Regions from separate parts of the Homo sapiens genome. Here region 1 is linked to region 2. A link means that fine-mapping ties the variant in region 2 to the plasma level of a protein whose gene starts in the linked region. Region 2 holds a variant in brackets. A gene starts in the other region. All regions are shown on their forward strands.

Evidence for each region. A credible set is the group of variants that fine-mapping cannot tell apart. PIP is the posterior inclusion probability: the model's chance that the variant is causal. Protein levels are from antibody-based Olink assays in UK Biobank. Linkage for the fine-mapping came from a reference panel and not from the study's own genotypes, which makes the PIPs less certain.
Region 1: it holds the start of MEPE, and the variant in region 2 is the best candidate, but not a certain one, in a credible set for the plasma level of the MEPE protein (UK Biobank, PIP 0.90).

Annotation. Positions count from the first base shown.
Region 1 is chr4:87,821,328-87,837,775 of GRCh38, forward strand. It overlaps MEPE (matrix extracellular phosphoglycoprotein), which reads left to right and starts at 11,642. Exons shown (of 4, transcript NM_020203.6): 1 at 11,642-11,687; 2 at 13,376-13,441. The coding sequence starts at 13,388.
Region 2 is chr1:218,419,945-218,435,835 of GRCh38, forward strand. It overlaps TGFB2 (transforming growth factor beta 2), which reads left to right. Exons shown (of 7, transcript NM_003238.6): 3 at 14,138-14,270; 4 at 14,394-14,504. Among named protein-coding and RNA genes, the nearest start is that of TGFB2-OT1, 15 kb to the right of the region's middle. The variant G/C (reference allele first, on the strand shown) is at 14,246.

The DNA of each region.
Region 1 (16,448 bases), not on the chromosome of region 2:
ATTTTCATCACAACATGTTTACATACTCAAGGTAGGAACTTCAACACTTTGCTCCTTCTGACCATACCCATTTACATAAACAAATGCAGTGCTCCCCTGGCCTGCCGGCAGCTATCCACACCAGAAAGAGGAAAAGGTAGACTGGTAAGACTCAGGCTTTCAAGTTATTTCAAAACCAATAGCAAAGTAAGACCTGAGGTACATATAGTTTGAATTTAGTCTTTTGAATGCCTTTTAAGAGAGTTTTGAAATCAGATTAAGACAAGCAAGTGGGCAAAACATGTATGTGTGCTGTTTTTGGTCATTGTTGCTGCTTTGTGGAAATGAAAAGAAAATCCTGAATGATACTTGTTATTTATCCTAATGTGGCCACCTAGCCTCGTGATGACAGTACCATCTGGCTCCTAGTGAAAGGGACCCTGAGGCCCCGTAAGCCTGCAAGGGTGCTCCATACAAATAGAAGCAGGGGCAACCAGATTTCATAGTCCCGTAAGGATGGCCCAAGAAGAGAAGTTAAAGACCCCTGAGCACCATAAAGCTGCAGGGGAGCCCTCATTCACACAGACAGCAGCTGGGCACCATAATCCCAGCGTGCACACCTCATATATGCAGCACAAGACCACTTACGAAAGCAACCACAAATGGCCAACACAGCCCTTACCTGATGCCTAACCAACTAGCCCACACAGTGCCTGCCAAACCAACACCCAGCACTGTCTTTCTCCAATGTAGGACAAAGACTGTGAGTCTTGGCTTTAAAAAAAAATGTCTCACCCGACTTTCCCGCCAAGTCTTACCTCCCAAAGTCTATCCTCTCTTGGTTGAAATGGATTTCCTTCTTGGCAGTAGAACTTCCACTCAACACTCAGTGCTTAGTCTCAGAGTCTTTTGATTGGCGTATTATTTCATATTTTTAAGCTAGTGGGAAGCCCAATCACCTGACTCATCATGCTTTCCAGGATAACCCATCTAGTTTTGAGTAACTTGGATAATTGGGGTGGGTTTTGTAATCTCCACTTCTACCCAAGTGCAGACTCCCAGGACTTTCCCACTCACAACCCGTCAAGCAATTAAGTGGTCCCCGGGCAGCAGTGTGGTTGGTAACTGGGTTACGAAGCTCCTGAATGCAGCTGCTAGGTTCACACACCACACTTCCACAGATTCAGCCAGTAGGGGGACCATGAAGTCAAATACAGTCAGACATTTTATTACATACACAAAAAACATAAGCATCACCTGTATGGTGTCAGCTCCCTGCATCTCTAATTCCATAGAATGACACTGAACAGAGAGGCCAGATGACAGATGGCACAGGTGGTAGGTCGTTCTGCTACTGAGGAGTCAGCTCTACCCCTTAGCCAAATAGGTATACTCACAAAGAAGTCTGCAGTTGAACCCTAAGGGAGCAAGGTCAAAAGTCCTGTGCTCAACTGAAACTAAAGAGACGAATGAGAAATGGCCTTGTGGTCATCTTCCACAAGGTAGGGAGGTGGGTGGGAACTGCCCATGGCATCTCTTCACCAGCTTGCTTATCCTTTCCTGCTGCAGGAGGAATTGCAGGGTACTTTGCCAAGACTCAGGTTGTACTGCAGTCAATTCTGGTCCCATATGTAATCCATAAAGACATGGTTGGTATGGAGTTGTGCAAGGTTGTCAGGAAGTTGCAGCAGAGCAGCTCCCCTGAATACCTCTTCCAGATCTCAAAGTTTGGGAAGCATTGAGTGTCCTGGACGTTTCAGAAGGAGGCTGGCCACATAGGAGTGTGGACTGGCTAAAAAAAGCTTTTGACGCATCAAAGAGGGTGACTCTTACAAGATAATTCATGGTAGACATGCAGGACCTCGCCAGGCAGTGGTGTGCTCAATGGCTGCTCACCCACTGTGTGGGTGGATGGTCTGTAGGTATCAGCGTGGCCACAGTGTAACTGCTTCTCAAAGATGACTCTGCCCTTTTCCCAGGATCACCCTGTATTTTGTCCTCTCATTTCAAGTCCTTCTTACCTCCTTCAACACGATGACTCAATCAATATCCTCTGCAGCTGGTAGCAGACAGGATAGCAGAGGGGACCCATCTTTAATCTGTGAGGCTCACTAAATATCCCTCTCCTTTTCAGTTTATTATTGTGACATAAATTCTATGCCCTGCATCCTTCATAGTTGGCCATGTTGATTTTCTACCACGCTTTCTTTAACCAAAAAGGTAAAACAAACAATACTTTTGCAAAACTAAAGCTTTAGCTTTCAAAATGATTGTTTCTGATGCGGGCTTCAAGAGTCTATTTCAGCAGTAAGAAAACAAATGTTGACTTTCTTTTCATTTGGATCCTTTCTGTCAAAAACTCCAATCCTTCTCCAGGCAAAGTGGATCTCTTTGAATGATGAGGAGAACAAATAGTGGAAGTGTGAGAAAGGCAGAAAAGCATACACACTTTTTTCCTTTTCTTTTGAAAAGGAAAATCTAAAGTAAAGAAACATGAATCTCGGGTTAAAAAAAAGAATCAACATCAATTGAAAGTAAACCATGAAGCAATGACTTGGACATTTTGTTTATCCATGTACAGTGTAGCAAATATTTTCTGCCCTAGCTCTTTAAAATACTTAGTGGGTTAGAAACTCATTAACTTGATTTGTTGGTTGAAGAATAAAGGTTCTCATGCAAATTACATTCTGTTACATCCTGGTCTTTCTCAGGAGGCTTCTCCCTTGTATCTCATGGTTCCCAGGGTCCAGGAAGATAAGACCACCATTAATATGTACAGAATTCATCTTATCTCTTTTTAAAATATAAATTCTGCCCTCACTATTTTAATAAGGGGTCAGCAAGCTTTCACTAAAAAGCAAAAGTCAGCAAACTTCTTTTTTAAAAGACCAGATAGAAAGTATTCTTGGCTTTGCAGAATTTGTGCTGTCGATTTTACAGAACTAACCTACAGCTAGAACCAAGATCAAGCTTCCCCTCAGCTGGCTAAGTGGTGAGACATACCTGATCATTCTTGTTACAGAATTCTGAAAGACAGTATAGTGAAAAAGTTACCTTTAAATATTATTTATCAAAGATAATACTTCTTGCTGTGCCTAGGTCCTGGAACTGTCAGAAACATCAAATAGCTGCAGAGGGTGGATTGCTTTGCAGGCTATATGGTTTCTGTCACAATTACTCAACTCTGACACTGTAGTGAAAGCAGCCATAGACAATTCGTAAACAAATGAACATGACTGTGTTCCAATAAAACTTTATCTGCCAAAACAGGTGATGAGTCAGATTTGGCCCACAGGCCATAGTTCACTGATCCCCTTTTAGATGATTGTATAAACTATGATCATTTTGAAAATGTTGTTGTCATTAATCACTTAAGAGATAAATTGTATCTTTTTCTCTTTTCTTTGTGTTTTTTTTGTTTGTTTGTTTTCAATTTGAAGCTTTGTCCTTTGCTTCAAACTTTGTTTAAAAACTCAGGAACATTTCTGATGTTTGATAGAGCAACCTGAGGATTTTCTCCTTTCTGCAGCTACATATTTATGTATTAGTTTTATTTTTTGAGACAGGGTCTTGCTCTGTCACCCAGGCTGGAGTGCAGTGGTGCAATCACAGCTCACTGCAGGCTCGACCTCCCAGGCTCAGGTGATCCTCCTGCCTCAGCGGCCCCAAGAGCTGGGACTACAGGTGTGCACCACCACACCAGGGTAATTTTTGTATTTTCTAGTAGACAAGGTTTTGCCATGCTGCTGAGGCTAGTCTCCATCTCTGGCTCAAGCAATCCACCCTCTGCAGCTATTTGATGAGATGTTTCTGACAGTTCCAGGACCTAGGCACAGCAAGAAGTATTATCTTTGATAAATAATATTTAAAGGTAACTTTTTCACTATACTGTCTTTCAAAATTCTGTAACAAGAATGATCAGGTATGTCTCACCTCTTAGCCAGCTGAGGGGAAGCTTGATCTTGGTTCTAGCTGTAGGTTAGTTCTGTAAAATCAACAGCACAACCATTACTCCTGCTACATAAAATGGGCCATGATCAAATCCAGTACACCAAACATTCTGAGAATAACTGTCAGTGAATGCCCAATACCTGAATTACACCCGGGGTATGTCTTAGGCACACTGTATTCTCCAAAAATGACTGAAACGTTATCTCCCATTCCTCAAGCTATTCTGCAATGTGAGGCTGCCACTTCTCCATCAAGGTGTGAGGCCTATTTCTGCACCCGCTTCAATCTGACAGTTTTGACGAACAAGTGGAGAGTAACTGTGCAACAGTCCCAGGCTTAGGCCATAAAACTAGCCTGTCAATCTCTGCTTTCAATTTGCATGGAAACTTTTATTCTTAGACCAACAAATCCAGTTAATTAATTTTTAACCGACTATCTTTTTTTCTTCAACTTTTAAGGTCTGTACATGCGCAGGATGTGCGGGTTTGTTAACGCAGGTAAATGTGTGTCATGGTGATTTACTGCACAGTACCTCCTATCGCCTAGGTATCAAGCCCAGCATGCATTAGCTATTATTCCTGATACCCCACCTCCAACAGGCCCCAGTGTGTGTTTTTCCCCTCCCTGTGTCCATGTGTTCTCATTATTCAACTCCCACTTATAAGTGAGAACGTGCAGTATTTGGTTTTCTGTTCCTGCATTGGTTTGCTGGGGATAATGGCTTCTGGCTCCATCGATGTCCCTGCAGAGGACATGATCTCATTCTTTTTTATGGCTGCATAGTATTCCATGGTGTACACATGCCACATTTTCTTTATCCAGTATATCATTGATGGGCATTTATATCATTTTCTTTATCCAGTATATCATTGATGCACATTCATGTCTTTGCTATTGTGAATAGTGCTGCAATAAACATACATGTGCATGTTTCTTTATAATAGAATGCTTTATATTCTTTATATTCTTTTTTTTTTTTTGAGACAGAGTCTTACGCTGTCATCAGGCAGGGGTGCAGTGCCATGATTTCCACTCACTACAACCTCTGCCTCCCGGGTTCAAGGGATTCTCCTGCCTTAGCCTCCCAAGTAGCTAGGACTGCAGGTGCACACCACCACAACAGTTTTTTTTTTTGTTTTTGTTTTTTGTTTTTGTTTTTTTTTGCTAGAGATGGGGTTTCAACATGTTGGCCAGGATGGTCTCGATCTCTTGACCTCGTGATCTGCTACATTCCTTTGGATATATACCCAGTAATGGGATTGCTGGGTCAAGTGGTATTTCTGCCTCTAGGTCTTTGAGGAATTGCCACACTGTCTTCCACAATGGTTAACTAATTTATACTCCCACCAACAGTGTAAAAGCATTCCTTTTTATCTGCAGCCTCACCAACATCTGTTGTTTTTTTGACTTTTTAATAATAGTAATTGTGACGTGTGAGATGGTATCTCATTGTGGTTTTGATTTGCATTTCTGTAATGATCAGTGGGGATGTTGAGCTTTTTTTCACGTATTTGCTGGCCACATGTATGTCTTCTTTTCTAAAGTGTCTAATTATGTTCTTTCCCCACTTTTTAATGGGGCTGTTGGTTTTTGTTTTTTTCTTGTAAATTTGTTTAAGTTTCTTATAGACTCTGGATATTAGACCTTTGTCAGATGGATAGATTGCAAACATTTTTTCCCATTCTGTGGGTTGTCTATTCACTCGGATGATAGATTCTTTTGCTGTGCAGAAGCTCTTTAGTTTAATTAGATCCCATTTCTGACTGAGCATTTTAAATCCTGAGCTACCATATAGGAAGTCCAGCCTATTCTGCAGGACAGAGTGATCATGTGGAGAAGCACTGTGGCATATCGGATGTGCAGCTCAGTCAAGTTTTGGGATGACTCTTGCACCCCATCTCTGACTGTGCCATTTGAGAAATCACAAGTGAGAATCATGCAGCTGAGCCAAGTCAACACACAGAACCTTGAGAGAAAACAGTGAATTTGTATTTCAAACTACGAAAAGTTTTAAGGTGGTATGTTTATAGCAACAGATAACTGGAACAGGAACTGACAAGCATAGAGAAAATCTGGGTTGGTGAGAATTAAGGAATTCATGAAAAAAGAGATAAAATAAAATGATAACACAATGCAGATAAACATGGAATTAAAAATAAGCTAAGACGATATACACCCTAATTTGGTAAGAAAATATTAATACATGTTCGATACAATGAATAGCTAGCTGGTAAAAGTCCTCAAGTTCTGTATCCTGAGAAGAAGATTCTTGGTCTTGAAAAACAAAACAGCAACCTCTGAAAAAGACTATTATGAGGGTAAGAGATATTTTCCTCTTGAGGTCACACAACAAAGTTTTGCAGCCACTTCCAGCAATGTCACCATGTCCTGAAGGAAAGGGCTAGCATCATTATAATTATATTTTAACTACATCCTCTGAGTTACATTTTAAGGTGGAGTAAGACATCTCTCTAATATAAAAATAAAAGCAAATTATATTGACATGTCTTCTCTTTGCTTGTAATAGAGGAATGGGTAAACAAAAAGCCCAGAGGAATGAACACAGCTAACTTCATGCTCTGCTGTGACCCTCCATGATTCTGCATCTGGCTGAAATTTTTATGGCTTCTGTTGAAATTCCCAAATGCTGACAGAAAAAATAATAACTAAAAATAAAATTAATTTGAGGGTAAAGGAGAAAGTTGGTTGTAAGTGATGCTTTAGAAAAGGTGACCTTTTTGAGCTTAGGATGATTATTGATACTCATGAATGAACACGTTTAAAATGAAAACATTCCTTCTGCTAAAAACAGGGCAAGACTCCCAGCACACTCATTCTGGACTCTTATTTTGGATATCAGTGGGAAGTAAATACTTCTATGAAATGCCTAAAGCCTTGACCAATCTAAGCATCTGTATGGTAAAGAAGAGATTACTCAACATGGACCCCTCTGTTCTATTCACAACACTTCAAAGACTTCCCCACTGATCCAGGAGGGGAAATACTGTATATTTGTAATGTATGTAAATTAGAAGATAGAGAGTTATTTTGGCAAGTTAGAACATACAGAAAAGTATATTGTATATGTAAAACAGAAACTTATTTTAGTTAGAACATATGGAAAAGTGTATTGTGTGAGTCTGTCTAAAATGATGACAGAGAAATGTGTTACCTTAATAGAGTCAAGAATAAATTGGGGACCATGATAGCAGGGGAAAAAGGACTTCCTAGAATACTAAGTTTAAAAAAAAATGTATACCAAAGCAATTAATCCCAGAGCACAAGTACAGAAAAGATGGGTCCTAGAAATAGATGAGAAAATAAAACAAACAAACAAAAAAGCCTTATTCCTGGGTGAGAGTCTAATAGCTGGAACTGATAGTATAGGTTCCTAGTTAGCTAGCATTTTATATGATTGTTCACACTCAAGTGATCGATAAGAAATGAAAAACCCACGACAGGATGAAGCATGTTCCATGGAGTACTTCCTTCCAGATTCTCTTTGAGGAGCAACTCTGTGTGTCAGTCTGACCCAGCAAAGTCAGGCTAGGTGCATCATTGGTGGAGGTGTCCATTTTTGAACCAGGAACGAGGAACCAGAAAAAAGTTCAAGTGTCCATTTCTTTCCCTTCTCAGTTGTTTCCCATTTTTCTTTGTTTTGTTTTGTTTTCCAGTTAAATAGAGATGGTGTGAAGATACATATTTTTTTTACAGACTCCTGGTTTTAACTTCAGTTATTGGTTCCTTAGAAATGCCATGGCAAAACTCTCTATTATACAATAACCTTTAGGAAACTTATATTGAGTTTTTGAAGTTCAATTTCAACACAGAGGGCAAGTTTTAAGAGGGTAGAAGTAAAAATCTCTACTGCATGGAACTTAGGCAAAGGATCATTCTCCTAATTTTTTTTCCCCAGAATTTCTTCTCTGCAACCTTCTAGCCAGAATAGGCTCTCATTTTTTTTTGCTTTTGTCAATTGTAGGTTCTAAATTTAAAACTCAAGTTGAATTTTTTTATGTAGCTTTGAATTCATTTTAGCTTTGAGAGCAGTATATTTAGCTACTGCCAGTTCACCCCTTGGTAGGACTAGTAGCTAAGCCAGTTTTTTTCTCTTAAAACTCTATAAATTTTCTTATCCTAGAACACAGGTTTTTCTAGATCATAATTAATTTTCCATCACTCAAATGAAAGGGAAATCTTTTTCATGCACACTGAAATTTATTTGAAACTAAGAAAAATGCATTTGAGGAATATCTGAAATTATTTATAAAATTATAGCAATAAAAAAATGAACATTTCCTAAGGCACATATCAAGTGTTTGCTCTATAACTGGATCATTCAAAATATAAAGTTAATGTTATGAAACAGTGTAACAGCTTAAAACACTGCATTATATACACATTATTATAGAAATTCCTGAATTATTTATTGCTTCAATAGCATATCCAAAGTTGAAAATGAGCATTTTTTGTGGATTTCACTTGTCTTCCATTTAGAAAGCTCTATATTTCCATTCAGTCTCAGAGTTGGCTGAACACTCTTTGTTGCCTTCTTTCCTTCCTTGACTTCCATTCCCTTGTTAGCTCCTTTCTATATCACCCAAATCCTTTTTTTTTTTTTTTTTGGACTTTGCTGAAATTCTGGTCATGGATACTGTGCTCCTTATTTTCAGTTGGAGAAACTGAGGCACAGAAAAGTTCAAATTAGTTGTTTAATCAACTTGCCACAGTAAACAGGTGGTAGAGTCAGGATTTGAACTCAAGTCTGTTTGCCTCCAAAGCTACTAGAGTTCTAGAGTTCAATATTTCCACTGTCAATGACAATATTCAAATATTCTAAAATCTATGCTTGAATGGTTGTAAGTCAACAGTGGCCCCACCCAATAGCTCAAACCTAGTCCTGGAAGATGTTCTTAAAAGCAGTTCTGTAAAAGCAGAACTACTGTTTGATCCAGTAATCCCATTACTGGGTATATACCCGGAGGAATATAACACATTCTTCCATAAAGACACATGCACACGGCTGTTCATTGCAGCCCTGTTCACAATGGGAAAGACATGGAATCAACTTAAATGCCTATCAGTGACAGACTGGATAAAGAAAATGTGGTATGTATACACCATGGAATATTATGCAGCTATAAAAATGAAAGAGATCATGTCCTTTGTGGGAACATGGCTGGAGCTGGAGGCCATTATCTTCAGCAAACTAACGCAGGAACAGAAAACCAAATACCACATGTTCTCACTTATAAGTGGGAGCTAAATGATAAGAACTTATGAACACAAAGAAGGAAACAACAGACATTGGGGTCTACTTGAGGGTGAAGGGTGGGAAGAAGGAGAGGAACAGAAAAGATAACTATTGGGTACTGAGCTTAATACCTGGGTGATGTAGTAATATGTACAACAAACCCCAGGGACATGTGTTTATCTATGTAATGAACCTTCACATGTACCTCCAAACCTAAATAAAAATTTTTTTAACAAGAAGACATGAGGTGAGGGAGAGGAGGAAAAGCAGCTCTGGATACTCAAAAGAGGAACAGCAGAATTTAGATATGATAAAAAAAAAAAAAGAGAGAGTTAGCTTGACCTAGAAAAGGCACCATTTTCTCAGGTAGAACTTATGAAATACTGTTTTGTTTGTGTTTTATGTTTTGGTTTTTGTCTATTTGGAGGGTTGAGATAAATTGACAGTTTACACTTAAATCTTATTATATATCATTTGTATATATAATATACAACTGTTAAAGGTGTGTTTCACTGTAGGTAGTTCTTATCACAAAGTATAGGTTAAATAACTCTTACATAATTTCTTATTGATGCTTTAATATATAGTCATAATGTCAATGACCTTTACAGGTATTATAATATTTTTATATTAAGTGGAACCTCTCAAACTATTACAATTATTTTGGTAGCCAGTTTGGGCAAAACAAGAGAGCAGGCAATCGCACTGGAAAGGCTTATTCTAGTATAGGTTTGTTACTTGTTTCATTAAGAAATTGAGTGTCTTAAATTGTCCATCTTATAAAATTTGTCTAAATCCAAACTCACAATATTTTCCTCAAAACCATTTTCTTCTGCATTTTTTCCAATATGAAGAAAAAATCAACTTTACTCTTCCAGTTGCTCAGGTCAAAACCTTGGTGTCATCCTGATTCTTGATTGTTTTCTCACAGGCCACATCTGGTACCTCAGCAAATCCTATTACCATTTTTCCCCAAACTTCTTCAGAATATGACCACGTCTCATCATCCCTTCTGCCGCACTCAGGTTCAAGCCTCCATCATCTCTGGCTGGGATTATTACAAGAGCTTCCTAGCCATTCTCTCTGCCTTTTTCCTACTTCAGTCACTCCTCAATCATGCCTGTGCTTAAAACCTCCAAGGACTTTTCTTCTCACTCATAGCAATGTCAAAAGCATTGCAATGACCTACAGGTCCTATACCATCTGCCATCTAATACCCTTCTGACCTCATTTGTTGCTATTCCCCTTGCTCAGGCCTCCAACCAAAGTGGCCTCTTCTCTGTTCCTGGAACAAGTCACAAGGCTTTTATTTCTGGGGCACTATTTTTCTTATTTCTTCTTCCTGGAATGGTCTTCCCATAGACAGTCATATGGCTGCAGGCTTATCTGAGTCTGTTCATGCTGCTACTACAGAATACCACAGACTGGGTAATTTATAAAAAACAGAAATTTATTTCACACAGTTCTGGAGGCTGGGAATTCCGCAATGAAGAGGCCAGCATGTTCATTGCCTGACGAGGGCTGTCTATCTCTTCTTCCAATTTGGCACCTTGCTACTGCATCTCCAGAGGGGACAAATGCTGTGTCTTCACACTGCAGACAAGCAGAAGGGCAAAAAGGGACTAGCTAGTTTCTTCTTGCCCTTTTATAAGGTCATTAATCCCATTCATACTGGGGTCTGCCTTCATGACTTAATCACCTTCTAAAGAGCCCATCTCTCAATACTGTCACCTTGGGTTTAAGTTCTAACATGGGAATTTTGGAGGGACACGTACATTGAAACCATAACAAGGTCTTTACTCAAAAGTTGCCTTCTCATTGAGGCCTTCCCAGGACTTCCTATCTAAAATTTCAACCCAGTGTCCCCACCCCCAATGCTTGTTACTCCCCAACAATACTTTTTCTCCTTAGACTTAGTATATGTCACTATCTAATCTATTTAACTCATTTATCTTGTTTATTATCTGTCTCCCTTATTGGATTCTAAGCTCCAGGAAGACAGGGATTTTTTTCTGTCTTGTTTTGTTCACTGCAGTTTCGCCAATGCCTGTCACACAGTAGGCACCTAAAACATTTTTGTTAAATGTTGCTGAATTTCACTTAGATAAAATTGACATCATAAACTTTCTACATAAAAGGATAGCAAAAATGTTTTCCATTTCTAAACTTGTTAGGTATTCAGTCAGTCCTAATTAGCAGTTCTGAAATCAATTTTGATTATCTGACAACATGATGTCCAAACTGAGGTATTTATATTTTCTGTTTATCCCACTTTCTGGAACATTTGATAGTAGCTTTCTACCACAAACACATTTTTAGATTAAAATTACTTCACCCCCTATGGTTATCTGTGGGCGCTTGTAACAAATTGTTTGCTAGCGCTGAGTGAGCCAGTGCTGATTGGCCATTGGGAACTCTAACAAACTTTAAATTTCAGCAAAATGCCCAGAGACTTCTAATCCTGCAACAAGAAGCCAGGTATTCTGAAGGTGAAAGATACCAGGTAATTTGGCTTTCATGTTCTTGACAGCAAATAGCTTTATATCATAGTTGTTTACGTTTTTAAGATGCTTGCCACCCAAGTATGGTTTTATTACTTTTGAAAATCTTCTCTACTGAGCAAAACTGTGTAATATTTGGTGCTTTGTTTTATAAAATAGGAAATGCGTTACCATGCTCTAGAAATCATCAACTAAAATTGATGATTTGATAGCAACTTTCTCTTTTTTTTTGTTATTAGCATTATCAAGATCCACAGTAACTCAGACTTCAGTTTTCTTCTATCCCTTCACTTAACAAACTGCAATCAGGAAAATCTGATCTTATTCATACTTTGAAACCTCATCTGTGTTGATATTTCTACTGATGAGCATTAACTCATTTCATAAGTTACTTACGTTGTCCTGATCTATAAAATGCTTGGAAGGGTAAACTATAGTTAGAATTTAGATCCTTCTAATTGCATTAATTTAGAAAAACATAGCCTAGGATTTTAGAATATATTTAATAGTTACAATCATTTCTCCAAATACCAGCTTTTCCTTGAGGTGTTTAAAGATTGCAAGAATATTTAGATTATTTTTTCCCATAAAAACAAGTTTTTCTTCAAGAAATCTCAGAGTGGCATAAATTTATTGTTTTCACAATATAATAATAAGATCAATAGTCCAAAGACATGTTGACTTTTTTCCAATCTAATGGCTACTTAAGTGAGCTCACTAGTTCCTGTTGGTATATTTACCAAAATATAAACAAATACCTTTATTTGTAACTAAATGTTAGTATTTTGAACATCATTTTGTTGAGCCCAATATAAAATATGATTTGCCTTTAAGTCAACTGTACATGGATTTTTCTGTAATAAGATAAAAGAATAGAAAGTTATTTAAGGTGGCAGAGAGTCTTGATGAAGAAAACTGGGTCTAGAGCCACATTGCCTGGATACTAATCCCAGTTCTGCCCCTTAATATTTGTGAATTCTAAAGCAAGTTATTTGATCTTTTTGTGTCTATTTCCTAATCTATACAACAGGCATAGTAACGCCGCCTAACTTGTAGGGTTGTTGTGAGGCTCAAATAATTGAATGCATGCAAAATTCTTAGACCCAGTGCTTGGCTCATTTTAGTATTCAATAAATGTTAGCCATTAATGTCAGTGTTGCAAAAATTAGTTCACTCTCCAGCCCATGGATGGCTACTAATTCAGACACATTGCTAATGAACATGAGACACAGATTAGGGCACCAGCCCGGAGGCAGATAAGCTTTCCTCACAGTGCAATCTGCTACCCTGACAAACTTAGAGTGTGTTATGAGCTGCTACATCAACTTAATGTCATTTTGAATTACACAAATAATTAAACAATCTCTTTCTAAAGACAAGAGGAAGAAGAGCTGATGATAGAGCAAATAAATGTGTCTATAAAATATATTTCTATCAACTGACTTTACTGTTTTAATGATATTGAATAATTTTCATTTTCACATTGGAATAACTAGACATATGAAAGTTCTTAAAATGTCCACACTCGGGTATAAGCAAGTTATACATAGTCTATACACACACATACACAAAAGGATATGAACTGCCAAGGGGAAGGGTGTTTATATATTCCTATGTGTTTTATCTCTTCTTATGGCTGCAGTTTATAACTGGCAATGCTTTGTGGTAAGATATTGTTGTCTTTTTACAGAGATTCTCAAAGATGCGAGTTTTCTGTGTGGGACTACTCCTTTTCAGTGTGACCTGGGCAGCACCAGTAAGTATTTACAAATTCAATTATATTTCAGATAATCTCTTGCTCTCTTCATTTGTTTTTCTTTCAAGCAACGTCTATTTAAATTAGTAGCATCTACCTAATTCAGTTATTTTAAAAAGAACCAAGCAAACAGAAAGCATCTAGCACTTAACACTCTTAACAAAGGAGGTTCTCAATAAACATGTGCTGAATTATGAGATCTGACAACATTGTCTTTTAAGGAACACCAAAAACAGATTTTTTGAGAAAACCAAGAGGCAGCCGCAGCATTTCAAATCAGCTGATACTAATGAGTGATACTCAAAGACTCAAATTATAACATGGTAAAATAATCTTTGACTATTTTCCTGTAAACTTAAAGAATTTGACATGAATGTTTTAAAGCTAACCAGCTAGATTTAGTAAATAGATAAAAATGCAAAGAGACAAGAACTCTTCTGTATTTCTTGCAACACCCCAATACTGTGGGATCCTACTTGTGATTTTCTCTTCATCAGCGAGGCTAGAGGTGGGACGTAGTACCTCCAAGCTTAACCCAAATCAAGCTCCTACTTCCTTGTGTGTCTTTTCTTCCCTCTGACTCACCCAGTTGAATATTCAGGATGTGACCAAATTATCTTGTGAAAATGCTGAGTGTTAGTTATTTTCTGCAATGCAGACACAGTGCTAATTAGATAATGTCTGAGCAGCATCCTAACTTATCAGAATAACCTTTTTGGTTGGAGAACCATGGAAACAAATAGTCATCCCATTGCCAATCATACTTATATATAGGTCCTGAGTGAGTGGGTGACTGCTAGGGTAACCAGGCTGATGAGGATGACCAGGGAAGCAGAGGGCCTCATGGAGGGCAGTGGAAGTTGGGGAAATGTGTTCCCTTCTCCGCACACACTCTGTGCAACAAGGGTGTGCAGTACAGTACTGTGGAGGCTGTACTGCTCACAACACACATTTGCGAGACCCCATGCACAGACCTCACTCAATCAAGGCCTAGAGGCTCAGGTGCCTCTCCCACCTCTCACGGTGGAAAAATGAGTCTTGCTGACCTAGCTCAAGTTGGCCAGCTGAAGATTTTATTTTGAGCAACATGTTCCAAGAAGCAGCTGGAGTGGGGCTTTCTCATCATTTTCCAGTAAATGTGCTATGTCAACATTGATTCAGTGACCACTGATCAGAAGAGGATGCCAGCTTTCCTGCCCAGAGGCAGACAATGCCATCTCCATTACAGGGCCACATTCAAGCCTAAGACATCTGCTTGGGGGTATAGAGGGGACAAGGGAGGGATGCGTATTTCAAATGAAAGCAGCTCAGCAAGGATGCAGAGGCAACATTTGTAACTGTGAATCATTAAATATGATGTTTTCTTCCAGGTATATAGATGCCATTTTAGTAATTACCTGAATTTTTAAATGATAGATTGGTGGCTTAAGAAATTAGTATATACTCAGCCACTTGCATACGTCTTAGAATTATAAGCCAAATTCTAAATGATTTTTAAAAGGAAGAAAATGAATGTTTATTAGGCTATGCAATTCGGTTAATATTCATCAAGATGCAGTTAGACTAGAAAGACTTTGTTATAAGTCACAATAAATCAAAACTGTACCGAGGTACTCTATATTGTCAAGTATGTTTCTAATCCATATGTGTGTGTGTGTGTGTGTTCTGTAAGAAGATCCCTGACACCCCATACTATCATTTCTTTCTTTTGCTTAATATCTGCCCATCTCATTTTTATGCTTTCTTCTTCCTATAGTCCAATTTCCAGAACTGTTTGCCCTGGTTTTATATTTTTGAAGAGTGATATAATTGTCCAAATTTATATTCACATGATCATATAAGAATCAACATAAGAAATGCAATAAAGGATAAAACTATAAAAGATGCCTTGACGATAATTAATATAAAGTTTAGGAACATTTCCTCTTATTACTAAATGCTTTTTCATATTTAATCATTCAAAAATTTATTATTTTAACCCTGGGACTTTGAGGCAGAAGATTTAAATTAAAATATCTTCTCTACTTCTACTGCAACTACCAACTATGAGTGTAGGCACTTCTGTTTCTTCTACTGCTCATCTTATAAAGGTTACTTTGGGACTCATATGAGATTATAAGTACAAAAGCAGTTTACAAACTATAAAGAGTCCTATAAATAGAAGGTGTTATTGATAAACTATTGTTATTTTCTAGAATGGAATTGAATATTAGGCAGCTATGCCTTGGAGTCCAGCCATGGAGGTGCTTTCTAAACTTCTGAGTTTTATATTTTGAAGATGATTTTATCTGCCAGAGTCCAGTCCAGAAAACAAAATCCACTACAGGGAGCTCAGTAGAGCGACTTTCTAAGGGAAGCTAGCTATAAAGTATAAGGAAGAACAGAAAAGCCAACCAGGGGTGGTGAGACCACCCAAGGATCGAAGCTATTACCAGGCTTAGGGCTGGAAGGAAAAAAAAAGGTGCTGCTCCTAGGCCCCTGGCTGGGGGAACTAGGACCACAAAGGAGATGTACCCAACTCTAGAGATGCAGCCCCAAACACGGAGAGTAGAGAAGGACATACCCTGGCTTCTCTCTCCTTCCCCCCCTCCAGACTCATGCCAGGCCTCCTTCACCCAAACCCAGTCTGAACACAGAGGGCAAATGAGCTTGGGAAATGAAGGAATCAGTTCAGATTGAGCTGGAGATACAAAGGAGCTGAGAGCAAGCAGGGGCATTCCCAATATCTTAGTGCAAGCAACAACCTGTCTGTATTAAACAAAATATAGAAGCTTAAGGCTTCTTCAGGAAGAACACTTTCCAGGTAAATAGGACAGCTGGCCTAGGCGGCCCTCTTTCTGTTTATCTCTTTATTCAATCTTTCCCTTAAGGGGTTCTCTCTTTTATATGATTGATCCACCATGATGCCTGCTTCCACTGTAGCACACCCATTCAAACACGGCCCAGTCCGCCCATTGGTTCCCAGTGCCACATCTGAGATAGGCTAGGAGTTTCTGAAAGAAAGAGG
Region 2 (15,891 bases):
TGGGCTTGTTAGTTTATAGTCACATGCCCTAAATTAAAGTGCTCACTTAAATTATAGTACAGGCCACATATGTTATAGGTGCCAGGAGGTAGGAATCAAGTTAGAAGTCTACTCCCCAAGTTCACATGTGTTAGTGTTAAAGTCAGAGTGGAATTGGAAGGGGGAGGTCAAATAAAAAATTAGAAGATATGGCTCCAGAGAGCTTGAGGTCTTGTGGACAGTCTTTCCCTCAATGGCAGGAAATAGGTAGGTCATTGTCAAAATTTATACTGCTGGGCTGTGTGGTACAGCCTCAAAGACTGTAGGAATTCAGCTAAGAAAAAGACAGTACAGTCTTGATTTAATTCTCCTTCAAATTCTACCATTACGTATTGTACTGCACCCCTCTCTCGCCTGGTCTATACTGATGTGGCTTTAGTCCAGTTGAATCCTTTTCTCTTTTGTGTGATTTATACCTGATGGTCTCATGAATGCTACTGAGCTGCAGCATCTGACAGACTTTCTGTTCACACAAAGGACTCCTTCATCCCTTCAACCTGGAGAAATGGATTTACTTGTTTATGCACATGTGCATTCAGCACAAAGGTTCATCTGTAAAGTTTTTTTTTTTAATGAAGGAAACAATAGGGAATTATAAGGTATTTCATCACAGAGGAGAGACTTTTCTGTGTGTGTGTGCATGTGTGTTGTGTGCGTGTATGTGTGTATGTGTGTAACTTGAAGGCACATCTAGTGACATTTCCATAAAGGTCATCAAAGGTCTGCGTATGCCATACTGTATCATAATTTCACATGGGTATGTATAATACAGGTGTATATCAATGTGTAATACTCTGTACTGTAAAGCGAAAGAGTTCACGTAGTGATGTAATAATGTAGCTATCTGAGCTCCAAAGAGACTTGTATTCTCAGTCTTCTGAGGCTGATATGTATTCCACGGGAGCTGACTGAAGGCCCTCGTGAAGCTCTTGCCAGGTATACATTACTTACGACCTCTTAGACAGATGCAATTATAAAGGAGCCATGACAATTACAGGACATGGTGATGGCAGAAGCAAGGTAAGTACTGGGTGTGTTAAGCCACTTCTGAAGGATAATCATGCAGTGTGTCGGTGTGGTAGGCACCCCCAAAGTGACCCAGCATAATCAAGGAGGCTACAGTTAGACAGGAAGAGAGAGCTCCATTTGTGCCTCCTTGAAATAAAAGCCACTGTACCCAGTTCTGATTCTCTATAAAGCTCCACTGGCTATTATTTGGAAATTCTCTTTCTTGCTTTCTCTCCCTCATTTCATTTTTATAATGAAATAAATAGAAAGGGTAAAATACAGTATTAAATTGCTTATTCTGTCTGATAATTCTTTCTGTCCTTCTTGATATATATAATCTCTGTGGTGGGTTTCTGGATGTGTTTAAAATTCCAAGAAGCAGTTTTTTTTTTTTTTTATCACTATAAAAGACCGATTGTTCAGGGGCTTATTTGTCACTTGATCAAATGTGTCTTTCTAATGAAGTCTGTTAACTAATAAGAATATACCAAGCAGGGATTGGGTAAGCTGCCATGAAAAATACTCTGTGGGGGTAATAAGAGAGAGAAAGAACATTTTTTGCTTTGAAGGAGCTCATAGTTAGATTGAGCATTATACTCCCCACAGTATAATTTATGAATCACTACTGTTAGAAGTGGGATTGTGTCCCTTCCCCTACACATAAAAAAAAGATATGTTGAAGTCATAATCCCCAGTACTTTGGAATGTGATCTGATTTGAAAATAGGCTCATTGCAGATATAATTAGTTGAGATGAGGTCATCCTGCAGGAGGGTGGGTCCCTAATCCAGTATGACTGGTGTCCTTATAAAAAGACAGCCATGTGAAGACTCAGTCACAGGGAGCCTGCCATGTGAAGATGAAGGCAGAAATTGAAGCTATGCAACTATAGCCAAGGAACACCAAAAATTGCCAGCAAACCACCAGATGCTAGAAGAGGCAAAGAAGGATCCTCCCTGGAGGCGTCAGAGAGATCATGGCCCAGCCAACACCGTGATTTCAGACTTCTAGCCCCCAGATTTGTGACAGGATAAGTTAGTGTTATAAGTCACCCAGTTTGTGGTACTTTGTTACTACAGTTCTAGGTTACCCATACACCTATCAAGCCAACTCTCCCTAAATCCTAGTATATATTGTTAGAAAAGATAAAAGGGCACTGAAGAGAGAGGAGGATGCCTTCCTTCCTTCCTTCTTTCTTTCTTTCTTCTTGTTTTTTTTGTTTTTTTGTTTTCTTTTTTTTTGTTTTTGACAGAGTCTCGCTCTGTCACCCAGGCTGGAATGCAGTGGTACAATCTTGGCTCGCTGCAGCCTCAACCTCCCAGGCTCAACAGATCCTCCTGCCCCAGCCTTTTGAGTAACTGGGACTACAGATGTGCACCACCATGTCCAGCTAATTTTTAAAAATGTTTTCATAGAGGTGAGGTCTCATTATGTTGCTCAGACTGGTCTCAAACTTCTGGGCTCAAACGATCCTTCCATCTCAGCGTCCCATAGTGCTGAGATTACAGGCGTGAGGCACCACGCCTGGCCTTGTTCTCCCTTCTAATGAACCAGCACATCCCTATTACCTGGACTGTGTTCTCTTAGTGCTGGTTTTTTGGATGTTCATAGTCATCCTTTTACACTCTCCTCTCTACAGGAAATCTTCCCTGACCTCATCTACCTGGCAAGGATAGATGCCCTGCCTGTAACATTTCCTGGTAACCTATGAACACATCGTTTTAAGTTTTTGTTGAGATGTCTATATTCCCTTACTACCCAATGCACTCCTTTAAGAACAGGCACCATCTTATTATCCTGGGGTATACGTATAATGCAATGCTTTGCTTACAGCCAGTGCTTAATATTTGTTGAACTAAACTGGAGGAAGTGAGGTATAAAATAAAATCAAACAAATGAATAAATGAGGACTCAAGTGCATACAAGATGCTCGGCAATGAATGAATGACTGAACAAACAAATTAACTGATCATATTAAATATTTGAATATTATTAGTTATTATTATTACTTTGAATGAGGGTAAAAGGCTCCTCCAAAGCCAATGAAAGCCTTCCAGAGTATGGATGTGGGAGTGATGTGTTGGAGAATCATTTGTTCCTGCTGTAGGTAAGCCAAGAAATGCTCACAAGAGTGTGTTCTCTGTGCCTGTCTGCCTGAGAGAAAATCTTGGTCTTTAATAACACGGTTTTGACCTAGAGAGTCAGATTTCTCCAAAATTAATCAATGAATATGTATTCTACCAGTGTCAGCAAACCAAAATATAAGGGTTTGTGGGGATTTAAATAAGTTTATGTTTCCCTCTCTCTTGTATGGGCTTAATATTCTATTGGAGGAAATGGACATTTCCACACATCCAGGATTACCCTTGAAGCCACTATGCGCAAGGGACCACATGCTCAGCAAATCCCGTAGCATTGCATGGGGAACTAGGGAAAGGGACCTGACTTTAGTTTAGAGTGAAAGTAAGCATGTCATTGAAAAACTGGGCTTCAAGTTTGGATTAGAAGAGTGGAAAGGCTTGTTTTGTTTTGTTTTTTAGGAGAAAACTGGAGGAGGGAAAGGCATTCTGATAGGGTTGCTAGTTAGAAGCCAAAGTTTGGAAGTTTGGAGTATATAATCCATGTTTTAGAGATATTGTTTAGATTAGGCTTCTAGGGATGAAAGGCGCGTGTGAGATGATAGGTTGGTGGCCAGTTGTGTTATCAATACTGAACTAAGGAATCTGGAGTTTATTCACTAGGCATTAGAAGCCTCTGAAAGTTTTTGACAAGGTAGGGAACATAATCATAACAATAACTCACACGTATTGAATACCAGGCAATGTGACTGATGCTCTCCCTACTCCGTGACACTTAATTTTCTCGACAAACATACAAGGTGCGTTTTACTATTCCTTTTCATTGATGAGAGAATTATAGATCCAGTAAGCCATAGTTTAGGCTTGTCTGACTCCAAAGCCTCTGCACCTTTTCGCTACGCTAATGATTTTCAAAGGCACTTGGCACAGCCCTATGGCTTCTTCAAAGAACTCTAAGGGACCACTGAGTAAATGGAATGGATTGATTGTCAGGTGGCCCAGATGGCCAGGACCCTTAGTCAATGAGTGAAATTCCACTTTTTTCTGCTGTATACCCTGCATATCACAGAGTGTTGATTTCAGAAATGGCCACCAGGAAGGAGGTAACTAAGAAGCCAGCAACAGGTTCTGGTTTTGGCCTTATGATTTTAACATTGTTATCACCAACATGATGAAGACATTGGCTGCACTGTTGCTAGTGCTCTGTGGCTCCGAAGAGTAGCTTATACATTGAATAGCAAACTGAAAATTCAGAGAGATTCCAAAAGGCTAAAACTTGGGTCAGATAATAGAGTTCAACATTAACAGATATATATGTGTAATTTGCATTTATGTTTGAAAAATGAATTATATAAATACAGGCTACAGCAGTGGTTCTCAGAGTAATCCCTGGTTAGCAGCTTCTACATCACCTGGGAACTTGTTAGAAATGCAGATTCTTGGGCCTCCACCTCATCCTATTAAATCAGAGGCTCTGGGGATGGGGCTTAGCAATCTGTGTTAATGAGCACTCCAGATGTTTCTGAAGCAGGCTAACATTGGAGACCACTGGGCTAGAAAGACCAACCCTCCTCCCTTCTTGCTTTGCATTATTTCTTTCTCTTTATTCCACCTCATTCCAGAAAGGATTTGGAGTGGAAAAATCTGACTTAACAACAGTTTGTGAATAAGAACAAAGGTTTTATTTTACAAAAAAATTTCTGTGACTCAATGATGTGTTGTGGCTGCTGCCAAAAGTAAATAGTTTGCATTAAAAGTAGTGACCAGAACAAGGGAAGCAATAGCTACTCCCCTCTTCACATTTGACAGGTTCTGTATATCTCCATATTCTGTTAGACCATATCTGGAGTTTGTTGAGGAACTAATTTTAAGAAGACATTGGAAAGGGTTTTAACAAGGATGGTGACACACCTTGAACTTTTGCCTTAAAGGGATCAGTTGAGGGAAGCCACCTCTTGTGACTAGAGCCTGACATGGAAAAGAAAGAATTTTACATCTTGCTCCAGAGGGCGAAAAACAATATTGGAAAGCCTTCTCCACTGGTATTAAGAGGGAAAGACATTAGTCCAGGCTCTTCCTGAAGGGCTTTGTTAACACACCTAAGTGCTTCAGGCTTCCGTTTTTTGTTTGTTTGTTTGTTTGTTTTTGTTTTTTATTTAGTTGGAGTCTTGCTCCATCACGGAGGCTGGAGTGCAGTGGTGTGTTCTCGGCTCACCACAAGCTCCGTCTCCTGGGTTCACGCCATTCTCCTGCCTCAGCCTCCCGAGTAGCTGGGATTACAGGTGCCAGCCACCACGCCCGGCTAATTTTTTGTATTTTTAGTAGAGACGGGATTTCACCGTGTTAGCCAGGATGGTCTTGATCTCCTGACCTCATAATCTGCCCACCTCAGCCTCCCAAAGTGCTAGGATTACAGATGTGAGCCACCGTGCCCGACCTGGTCTTCTGTTTCTTTTAGAATGCAGATAATAAGGGCCATGATGTTCATCCCACAAGATTTCTGTGAAGGGCTAAAAACATGGCAAAAAGTTCAAATATTTGAAAAACTACAATGGTTGTACAAATATGAGGCAATGGCGCTATTATTAAGGAAGACTAGTTGATGGAAATTTTAAGTCCAAGATAATGGAGAATCTCAACAATATGGATTGTCCAAAAGGGGGACGACCTTTCTCATTAAATAGTGAGTTCACGGTCATGAGAGGCCTTTAGACAAAGAGATGTTAGAGAATGAACTGTATGGGATTGAAGCAGATGGTTTCAAAGTGCCTTGCCAATGCCAGTATTTCATAATGCTGAAGTGAATGACTTGAGGTCAGGCAGATCTGAGAGACTCGTGCTCACAGCCAGCAGAGTGAATGTTTGATTCATCATTTGTTCATCACTACTTGCAAGTCACTGCAAACATTTAAAACATTTAAATACATTTAAACACTGAACACACTTAAAGATATTTAATGATTAAACATATTTAAAGCGTTAAAAACATTAAATGCATTTAAAAACAAGATGGGCCCACACTAATGAACCTGGTGTCAATTTTTCTCTACAGCACTATAGTTAAATTCCCTTTGCATTAGAAGTCTGATTGAATAGCCCCATGGTCTCCTGTGGATCTGTTGATGTATGAATTTGGAAAGTAACATTGAATTCCCAATGCTTTCTTATAACTCTTTGCAATGTCTCATAGACGTGTAAGAGATGTTGCCCTTAGTGTCTAACCCAAGTCCTGAGTTGTTTTACAGCATTTTTATTTTAAGGTTAAGATTTCTTCTGGCTATAATTTTGCATCTAGACTTCTACTTGTTTTTTCCCCCCTCAAACTATTGGGTAACATCAGTGACTTTCACCTTTATCCACTGCCCAGTTGGCTGCTTTCCAATGGCAGAGAAATGAATGGATGCTTTTGTGTAGGGAGTTGTGTAATTCAATGAAGAGCTTGGAGCCTTGCTGAAGGCGATATGTGGGTATTTCACACATATTATATCTAATGATTATATATCAGTAATGTAATGAAGGTGGCATTCAAACATCACTGTGGGTGGCAGCTAAGCCAAAGACAGCTAAATCTTATTTTTAATACATGAGAAGCCCCCTTTTCTAATTCAATCAGAAACAGTTGTTGGTCAGTTAAAGATTAAAAAATCAGTTAAAGCCAGGGATTAGAAAAACATAGGAGAGAGAAACAGAAAGAGAGAGATGCAAACCTTAAATTTTTAAAACTTAAAACAAATATATATGTATGTACATATGGATGTATACATACACATTCACATGCTGAGGCTGAGTTCTTTTTGTGAAAGGCCAAGGACTTTTCTTTGACATGGATGTGCCAATTACCAATCCATGTCATTTTGTTTTGTATAAATCACATTTATAGTGCATCATCTACAATTTCTATTTTTATTTTTCTGAAGTAGAGATGTTTAAGGACAATTGCTGAGCAACCTGAGTGTAGGATTCTTCTAACTTTTTATCGTATTATTTCTTCTGTAGCTGTCTCTCTCACACCTAAAATTAGAAAAAAAATTATTGTGATAAAATATACATAATATAAACATTACAGTTTAACCATCCTTTAAGTATACAAGTCAGCAGCATTAAGTACATTCACCACAATATTGTATAGCCATCACCACTATCCATTTCTAGAACTTTTTTTATCGCCAGCAGAAACTCTGTACCCATTAAACAATACCTTCTAATTACCTTCTACACCCCTACTAACCTCTAACCTCTATTCTGCTTCTTTTTTTTCTTCTTATTTATTTATTTTATTATTATACTTTAAGTTCTAGGGTACATGTGCACAATGTGCAGGTTTGTTACATATGTATACATGTGCCATGTTGGTGTGCTGCACCCATTAACTTGTCATTTACATTAGGTATATCTCCTAATGCTATCCCTCCCCTCTCCCCCCACCTCAGGACAAGCCCCAGTGTGTGATGTTCCCCTTCCTGTGTCCAAGTGTTCTCATTGTTCAATTCCCACCTATGAGTGAGAACATGCGGTGTTTGGTTTTCTGTCCTTGCGATAGTTTGCTGAGAATGATGGTTTCTAGCTTCATCCATGTCCCTACAGAAGACATGAACTCATCCTTTTTTTGACTGTGTAGTATTCCATGGTGTATATGTGCCACATTTTCTTAATCCAGTCTATCATTGATGGGCATTTGGGTTGGTTCCAAGTCTTTGCTATTGTGAATAGTGCCGCAATAAACATTCGTGTGCATGTGTCTTTATAGCAGCATGATTTATAATCCTTTGGGTATATACCCAGTAATGGGATGGCTGGGTCAAATGGTATTTCTACTTCTAGACCCTTGAGGAATTGCCACACTGTCTTCCACAATGGTTGAACTAGTTTACAGTCCCACCAACAGTGTAAAAGTGTTCCTATTTCTCCACATCCTCTCCAGCACCTGTTGTTTCCTGACTTTTTAATGACTGCCATTCTAACTGGTGTGAGATGGTATCTCATTGTGGTTTTGATTTGCATTTCTCTGATGGCCAGTGATGATGAGCATTTTTTCATGTATCTGTTGGCTGCATAAATGTCTTCTTTTGAGAAGTGTCTGTTCATATCCTTTGCCTACTTTTTGATGGGGTTGTTTGATTTTTTCTTGTAAATTTGTTTAAGTTCTTTGTAGATTCTGGATATTAGCCCTTTGTCAGATGGGTAGATTGCAAAAATTTTCTCCCATTCTGTAGGTTGCCTGTTCACTTTGATGGTAGTTTCTTTTTGCTGTGCAGAAGCTCTTTAGTTTAATTAGATCCCATTTGCCAATTTTGGCTTTTGTTGCCATTGCTTTTGGTGTTTTAGACATGAAGTCCTTGCCCATGCCCATGTCCTGAATGGTATTGCCTGGGTTTTCTTCTAGGGCTTTTATGGTTTTAGGTCTAACATTTAAGTCTTTAATCCATCTTGAATTAATTTTTGTATAAGGTGTAAGGAAGGGATCCAATTTCAGCTTTCTACATATGGCTAGCCAGTTTTCCCAGCACCATTTATTAAATAGGGAATCCTTTCTCCATTTCTTGTTTTTGTCAGGTTTGTCAAAGATCAGATGGTCGTAGATGTGTGGTGTTATTTCTGAGGGCTCTGTTCTGTTCCATTGATCTATATCTCTGTTTTGGTACCAGCACCATGCTTTTTTGGTTACTGTAGCCTTGTAGTATAGTTTGAAGTCAGGTAGCATGATGCTTCCAGCTTTGTTCTTTTGGCTTAGGTTTGTCTTGGCAATGTGGGCTCTTTTTTGGTTCCATATGAACTTTAAAGTAGTTTTTTCCAATTCTGTGAAGAAAGCCACTGGTAGCTTGATGGGGATGGCACTGAATCTATAAATTACCTTGGGCAGTATGGCCATTTTCACGATATTGATTCTCCCTATCCATGAGCATCTTTTTTTTTTTTTTTTTTTTTTTTCTGAGACAGAGTCTTGCTCTGTCAGCCAGGCTGGAGTGCAGTGGCACGATCTCAGCTCACTGCAACCTCCGCCTCCTGGGCTCAAGCAATTTTCCTGCCTCAGTCTCCCGAGTAGCTGGGATTACAGGTGTGTGCCACAACACCCAGCTAATTTTTGTATTTTTAATAGAGACGGGGTTTCACCATGTTGGCCAGGCTGGTCTCAAACTCCTGACCTCAGGTAATCCACCTGCCTTGGCCTCCCAAAGAGCTGGGATTACAGGCGTGAGCCACTGTGCCTGGCCTATTCTGCTTTTTATCTCTATGAATTTGCCTATTTAAAGTACCTTTTGTAAGTGGAATCACAATATTTGTCCTTCTGTGTCAGCTTATTTCACTTAGCATAATCCTCAGAGTTCATCCATGTCATGTAGCATGTGTCTGAATTTTATTCTTTCTTATGGCTGAATAATATCTTAGTGGATGAGTGTACTACATTTTGTTTATGCATTCATCTCTTGATGAGTACTTGAATTTTTTCCCACCTTTTGACTATTGTGAGTAATGCTGCTATGAACATTGATGTATAAGTATTGCTTGAGTGCCAGCTTTCAGTTCTTTTGGCTATATATCTTAAGAATGGAATTTCTGGATCATGGGGTAATTCAATGTTTGCCTTTTTGAGGAACTAGCAAACTGTTTTCCAAAAAACTTTCTTTCCTATAGGAACTTGTCTTTATGAAGACTTTCCAAGACAGTCAACTGGCTTTCGGAGAAGAAACAGCTCTCTTTACTTTTGGTCCTGCATTTCATCAGTTTCTAGACCATTTAATTAACTTGCATAATTACAATAACAAGTCCAAGTGTCATAAGCAGGTTTAGAAATGTATATCATTTCATGCTTTCTAGGGAAAAAAAGAAATGTATAAAATTGATATTTGTTAAGCATACAACTCAACTGGTAAGAGTGGAAGTGCTTGGAGAGTAACTTTCCCCAATGATCCCCAGTGTGCTTTGGGCATCAGCCAATATATATTATAAAACACAGAATTAATGGAGAATGCTGGTTACTCTGGCCAGTTAAGGGGAGGCCAGTTAAGAGAGCTTCTACTATTCAACTAAATTATCTTTGTCATGATAAGATACATAAAGAGGCCGGGCGTGGTAGCTCAAGCCTGTAATCCTAGCACTTTGGGAGGCTGAGGTGGGTGGCTCGAGACCAGCCTGGGCAACATGGCAAAACCCCGTCTCTACTAAAAATATAAAAAATTAGCCGGGCATGGGTGGCGCACACCTGTAGTCCCAGCTACTCCGGAGTCTGAGGCGAGAGAATCACTTGAACCCTGGAGGCGGAGGTTGCAGTGAGCCAAGATCACACCACTGTACTCCAACCTGGGTGATAGAGTGAGACCCTGTCTCAAAAAAAAAAAAAGTATAAAGAAATTTAGAAGCAAATGACTCATGAATCTAGAAAAACAATTAACAGCTACATATCCACAACTACTAACATTCAATACTCTTGTTGTTTGGAGACCTGAGAAAGACAGACAGCAAAGGCTAAAATAGAATGGGAAGTTGACTGATCTGGTCACTTCCTGTATAAACTTTTGAATGTAAGCAGCAGGTTGATTTTCCATGCCTTCTTCTCTTACAGTTCAATTTAGTGTGGGTGATAAATGGGAGATAAACAGAGGATAGTGAGGTTGTGCCTATTCTTAGGAAGAAGATACCTTTCAAGTTAAGATTCAAGACTTTACGATGTGATTAGAAGGTTTTCTAGATAGTTCTGAAGCAAAATCATGAAGCTGTAGGAGGAATACTTTTATATAGCATCATTCATCCTTGTTAGCAACCCAAATGATTAAAGGTTTGGGAAATTACACCTTTAAATATGGTCTAAAGGAACTGGGTTTATTTAGTTTAGAGAAAGCAAGCAAGCACGCTGAGGGGGACTTAATCATAGTCTCCAAGAATATGAGGGATATTCTCTGAGTGATGGAAAGCAGCTGTTTCCTGTTTCCACTAAGGACTGGATAAGAAGAATGGAGTTAACATGCAACAAGTGGGTTAAGAACTCTTTGGCCATGAAGTTCAAGACAACAAATCCACCAGACAAAAGTCGCTACTGTGTTTGAGAATTATGTAGCTAACTAACTGTATTTCTTGGGTGGTTTATATGTGGCCTGTTCATGAGTCTGGAGCTAGTGAAAAAGATCCAGAGGACCTTTCACCCAAGTGAGAGGATGAGATTGTCTGTTTTCTGAGCCTACCAGTGCTCTGTGGTTGAGGAAGCTCTTATCGTAGTTCTCCTAGTAGGATTTAAAAGAGAAAAAGCTTCAGAGTCTCTTTGCTGCTCTTTGGACTCTTTCCAAGTAAGATAATCTAAATGTACTCCTTTTCTATAAGGTGGAAGATTTATATAGATTTGGCATTATGTGTCTTTTCTGCTTATTTGGTCGATATGGCCATAATTTTTAAAAATTCTGTGTCTTTAGTGAAACTGGACATATATATACACACATATATACATGTATATGTATGTATATGTCATAGACATTTGACATGTATATCATAAGTAATTAATTCAGCAATGGAGACAATGTTTAGTTCTAGGTAGTATGTCTAAATGTTAGCTATGTGAATAAGATAATACACTGTGCTAATTAGCAGCACAGAAATATGCAAAGCATTTTGTAAAAATGCACTGTTGCAGATTAGCTAGGGGAAGAATTTAGAGACAAAACGATGAGTTCTGTGAATGTTACCAGTTTTTAGTCAATGAGGCAGATCAGAATGCCTGAAAACTGCTTCTCAACCATTGTTTTTCTTATTCCTGTTCCATAGTAGGTTAATTATACCATTTATTCAGAATTAGATAAGTGATGTCTTACTTTCCCAACTGGGAGTATTTTCAAGGCAAGGTTTGATTCCTAGGAGATGGACTGCTATTAAGCTGTATCTTTAAAGCTGTAGCTTTATGCCAACATTCATTGTGTATACGTTCCACTATCTTATATTTTCATCTTGTACCAGCATTTATTTTAATCTTATTTAAAAATCTTTGCCTCTGTCATTGAATGTTTTCTTGACTCAATAACTTGTTTGGCCTTTAAAAATCCAGCACTGAAGTGGGAAAATGACTCGGGATTGAGTTGGATCATCTCTTCACACTTGTTCACTGGGAGGCATTGGGCAAGTTAGTTAACCTCCTTGAGTTTGCTTCCTTAATCTACCCTACAGGAACATTTTGAGGATTAAATAAAATAAAATAATGCATGCCAAGCCCAGAGCGTAGTGTACCCAGCCCTCAAGTCATGTTTATCTGCTTTCTTTAATTCGCAAAGAACATTTCTTACCTATCATAGAGCCATTGTTGCCTCCACATTCTCTTCTTTTAGTGGAGGTTTTGGACCACAGGGGCAGATCTGTAGAATAAGTCTTGTGTAAAATTCATGAGGGCACCCAAGGGTCTAATTGTATGAATCTCCTTCCTTTTCTATATTTACTTAATCCAGAAAAAAGTCTACCATTATGGCAAGTATTTTAGGAAGCGTCTGTTGCCAAATTACCTGAAACAAATCATGTACACACATGGAAGGAAAGTACATTTTCAGATGAGTGGAAAGATGATGCATTTTTGTTTTACAAGGTTTAAAGGATAGTTAATAAATCTTCTAGATACTGAAATAAACATTTAATAGATATTGATTCAATTGAGTGCTATGGTTTGAAACGATATCAAATTGAAGACATGATCCCTGACCTGGGAAGTTTTATGAATTTGCTGGAGAGACCAAGCCCATAGGTATGGAATGACCACAAAACAGAGTAGTACAAAAATCCGGAAGAGTAGTACAAAAATGACAGCTTGAACCCCTAAGTACTGAGGAAAGGCAGCATACAGGGTTTCAGTAGGGATTTACTATAGTAGACTTAGAATCATGATTTAGTTCCTAAAACCACTATCATTTCAAAATAGAATTTTTTTAAAACCACCTAAAATATTCACTTCCTTTCGAAACCTAGGAACATACTACAGTTGCGCTTTACTCATTTGAGATAAATACACCTTTCTTGAAATGTTAACTTTTTCTTTATTTTTTTTGTTTTTGAGAGGCAATCCCACTCTGTCACCCAGGCTGGAGTGCAGTAATGCCACCTCGGCTCACTGCAACCTCCGTCTCCCGGGTTCGGGTGATTGTCCTGCTTCAGCCTCCCGAGTAGCTGGGATTACAGGCGCCCACCACTGTGCCTGGCTAATTTTTGTGTTTAGTAGAGACAGGGTTTTACCATGTTGGCCAGGCTGGTCTTGAACTCCTGACTTCAAGTGATCCGTCCAACTCAGCCTCCCAAAGTGCTGGGATTACGGTGAGCCACCACGCCCAGCCTGAGATAAATACATCTTCCTAAAGCCTCAGTGTTTAGGCTGGTTTGCTTTCAGATATTCATCTATGCACCATACCAAACTACTTCTGCTGAGATTCATTCTGAGTCTGCAGGGGATGGAATACCTTTATAAATCATAACAAATCACATTAAGAGTAAAATATCCCAGCTAGGGACTTACCTCAAAAGCTGAGGCATGACACATATTTTAATGGCAATGGATTTGGAAACCAAGGTTAGGACCGTTCTTTCTTTATTAGAAGGAGATTTATAATTCAGGGCCTTTGAGAGTGAGCCTGGGTCCTCTGAACTGGACTTCTCCTCTTGTCCCTTCCTGTACCCCAACTCCCCAAATTAAATAAGTAGGGAAGCAGAACAAGAAAACCATTAACTTAATAGCATAGAATTTATGGCTGAAATCTTGCAAAGCTTATGTCAGCAAAGTAAAATAATTACTGTCACTTTCTTTTAGACACTTGGCTTTATGGTTCCTGTCACCTTTATCATAACATGCAGCTGATTTAGTAGCTATTTTTTCATGGCAAATAGCCTGGTGTTGTGTTTTTATGCATGTGACCATGCAATTGAGATGACAATGCATGGCTATACTACAGTAGAGCTAAATTTAGGTAATGAATTAGAACACTGTTAATAGTTTTGGTTTAGTCATGCTGTCAGAATGCCAACTCAGCCTTTTCTCTTGCTCTTTTTCCCCTCCAGATTCTCAAGTCCAAAGATTTAACATCTCCAACCCAGCGCTACATCGACAGCAAAGTTGTGAAAACAAGAGCAGAAGGCGAATGGCTCTCCTTCGATGTAACTGATGCT[G/C]TTCATGAATGGCTTCACCATAAAGGTTACAAGCCACTCTCTCTTTTCCTCCCAAGATGTTCAGTATCCCTAAGTTACTTTAAATTGATTGCAGATTTAAGGGTATAGACACACATACAAATGACCTCCTTGACTTAATGTTTTCCAGACAGGAACCTGGGATTTAAAATAAGCTTACACTGTCCCTGCTGCACTTTTGTACCATCTAATAATTACATCATCCCAAATAAAAGTGAAGAACTAGAAGCAAGATTTGCAGGTAACCAAAACTTGGTCATATGAGGTGGGGGAGGGAAGGGTCTATATTGATAATCTCATGGGGGATAAAATCAGTTTGCATGTGAAAATGAGACTGGTAAGGCCTGGGGAGTTTCATTCATTTGGACAGTGATATGGTTGGATATACATATGTGAAGGGAGAAAGGATTGGAAGAACGGAATAGGTTCCCAGTTTATAATTCTCAATGCCCAGTGATGACTTGGTCAATAATAACTGATTAACTCATTAACCCTCCAGTAGTAAGTTAAGGCCTTTGTTCTTCATTGTAGCAAACCAACTTTCCATCTATACTGATATTATAGAGAAAGATAGAATGTGTTTAAGAAAATTCATTGATAATCCCCCAAACCAAATGTCAGGAACTGACAACCGTATTTCACAGAAGAAAGGAGTCTCCTCCTGCTACAGCTTCCATAACTAACCTTCCATGTATAAGAACATTCCACCTTTTCTAGTCCATACCCAGTATTTCAAGTGGGTTCCTTATCAGAATTTTATATTAGTTTATAAACACATAAAAATGTTTTGGCTTTCCCCACGCTTACCTTTAAGTAAGTTGGACAAAAGTCATGGAGAGTGAGGCGATACCAAGGGCTCAAGTCACTTCATGTATTAGATGATGAGTTGTTGGATGATGAGAGGTGAGAGGAAATCCATGCCTATGTGCCGATACAGCATCTGCCCACAATGCCAGGCCAGAGAATTGATTTCCCTGCCCTCCTAACATCACCCAGGACCTCCATCCACTTTTAGAAGACTACAGCAGCCCTTGCTCATGGAAAAATACTCCCAGAGGTCTAGAGATTTATTTCAGTCTCTAACCTAGTCATGATTCTCTGGAGTGTGGAGATTAAATGCTTAAACTGGCAGTCTCTTGAGCATGCTTTGGGGAGCTCAAGTTTCTAAATCTCAGATGGAATCAGGAAAGTGTTGAGGATGCCATAAAATAAATGAAAAAGCCCTTTCTTCACAGCTTCCCAAAATAGCATTAGGTAAGGGTGACTTCTGTTTCACTTGAACCTAATTCACTCCAATTCAGTTAAGTCTCAGTTTATGTTCATTAGGAAAGTCTTTTGAGTTTAGTAGTCTTAGGAAGAGTGTGAACCAGCGGGTGACAAGGCATGTTCTATTGCCATGTGTTCAGTTGTTGAGGGCTTGAACGCAGCCTAAACTGAGGATTGACTAAAATAAACTGCCTAGATTGCCCTTGGACTATAGGTCAAAGACTGCTTCTGTAGTGACTTTCATAACCAACAGCCCTGGCTTTGACACCGAACTGCCTTCTGACAAGAGCCCCATTTAGAAGTGTTAATTGTCACGTGGGTTAGTCGTAGTCCTGTTGTGCCATATCTATTTCCATGGGGAA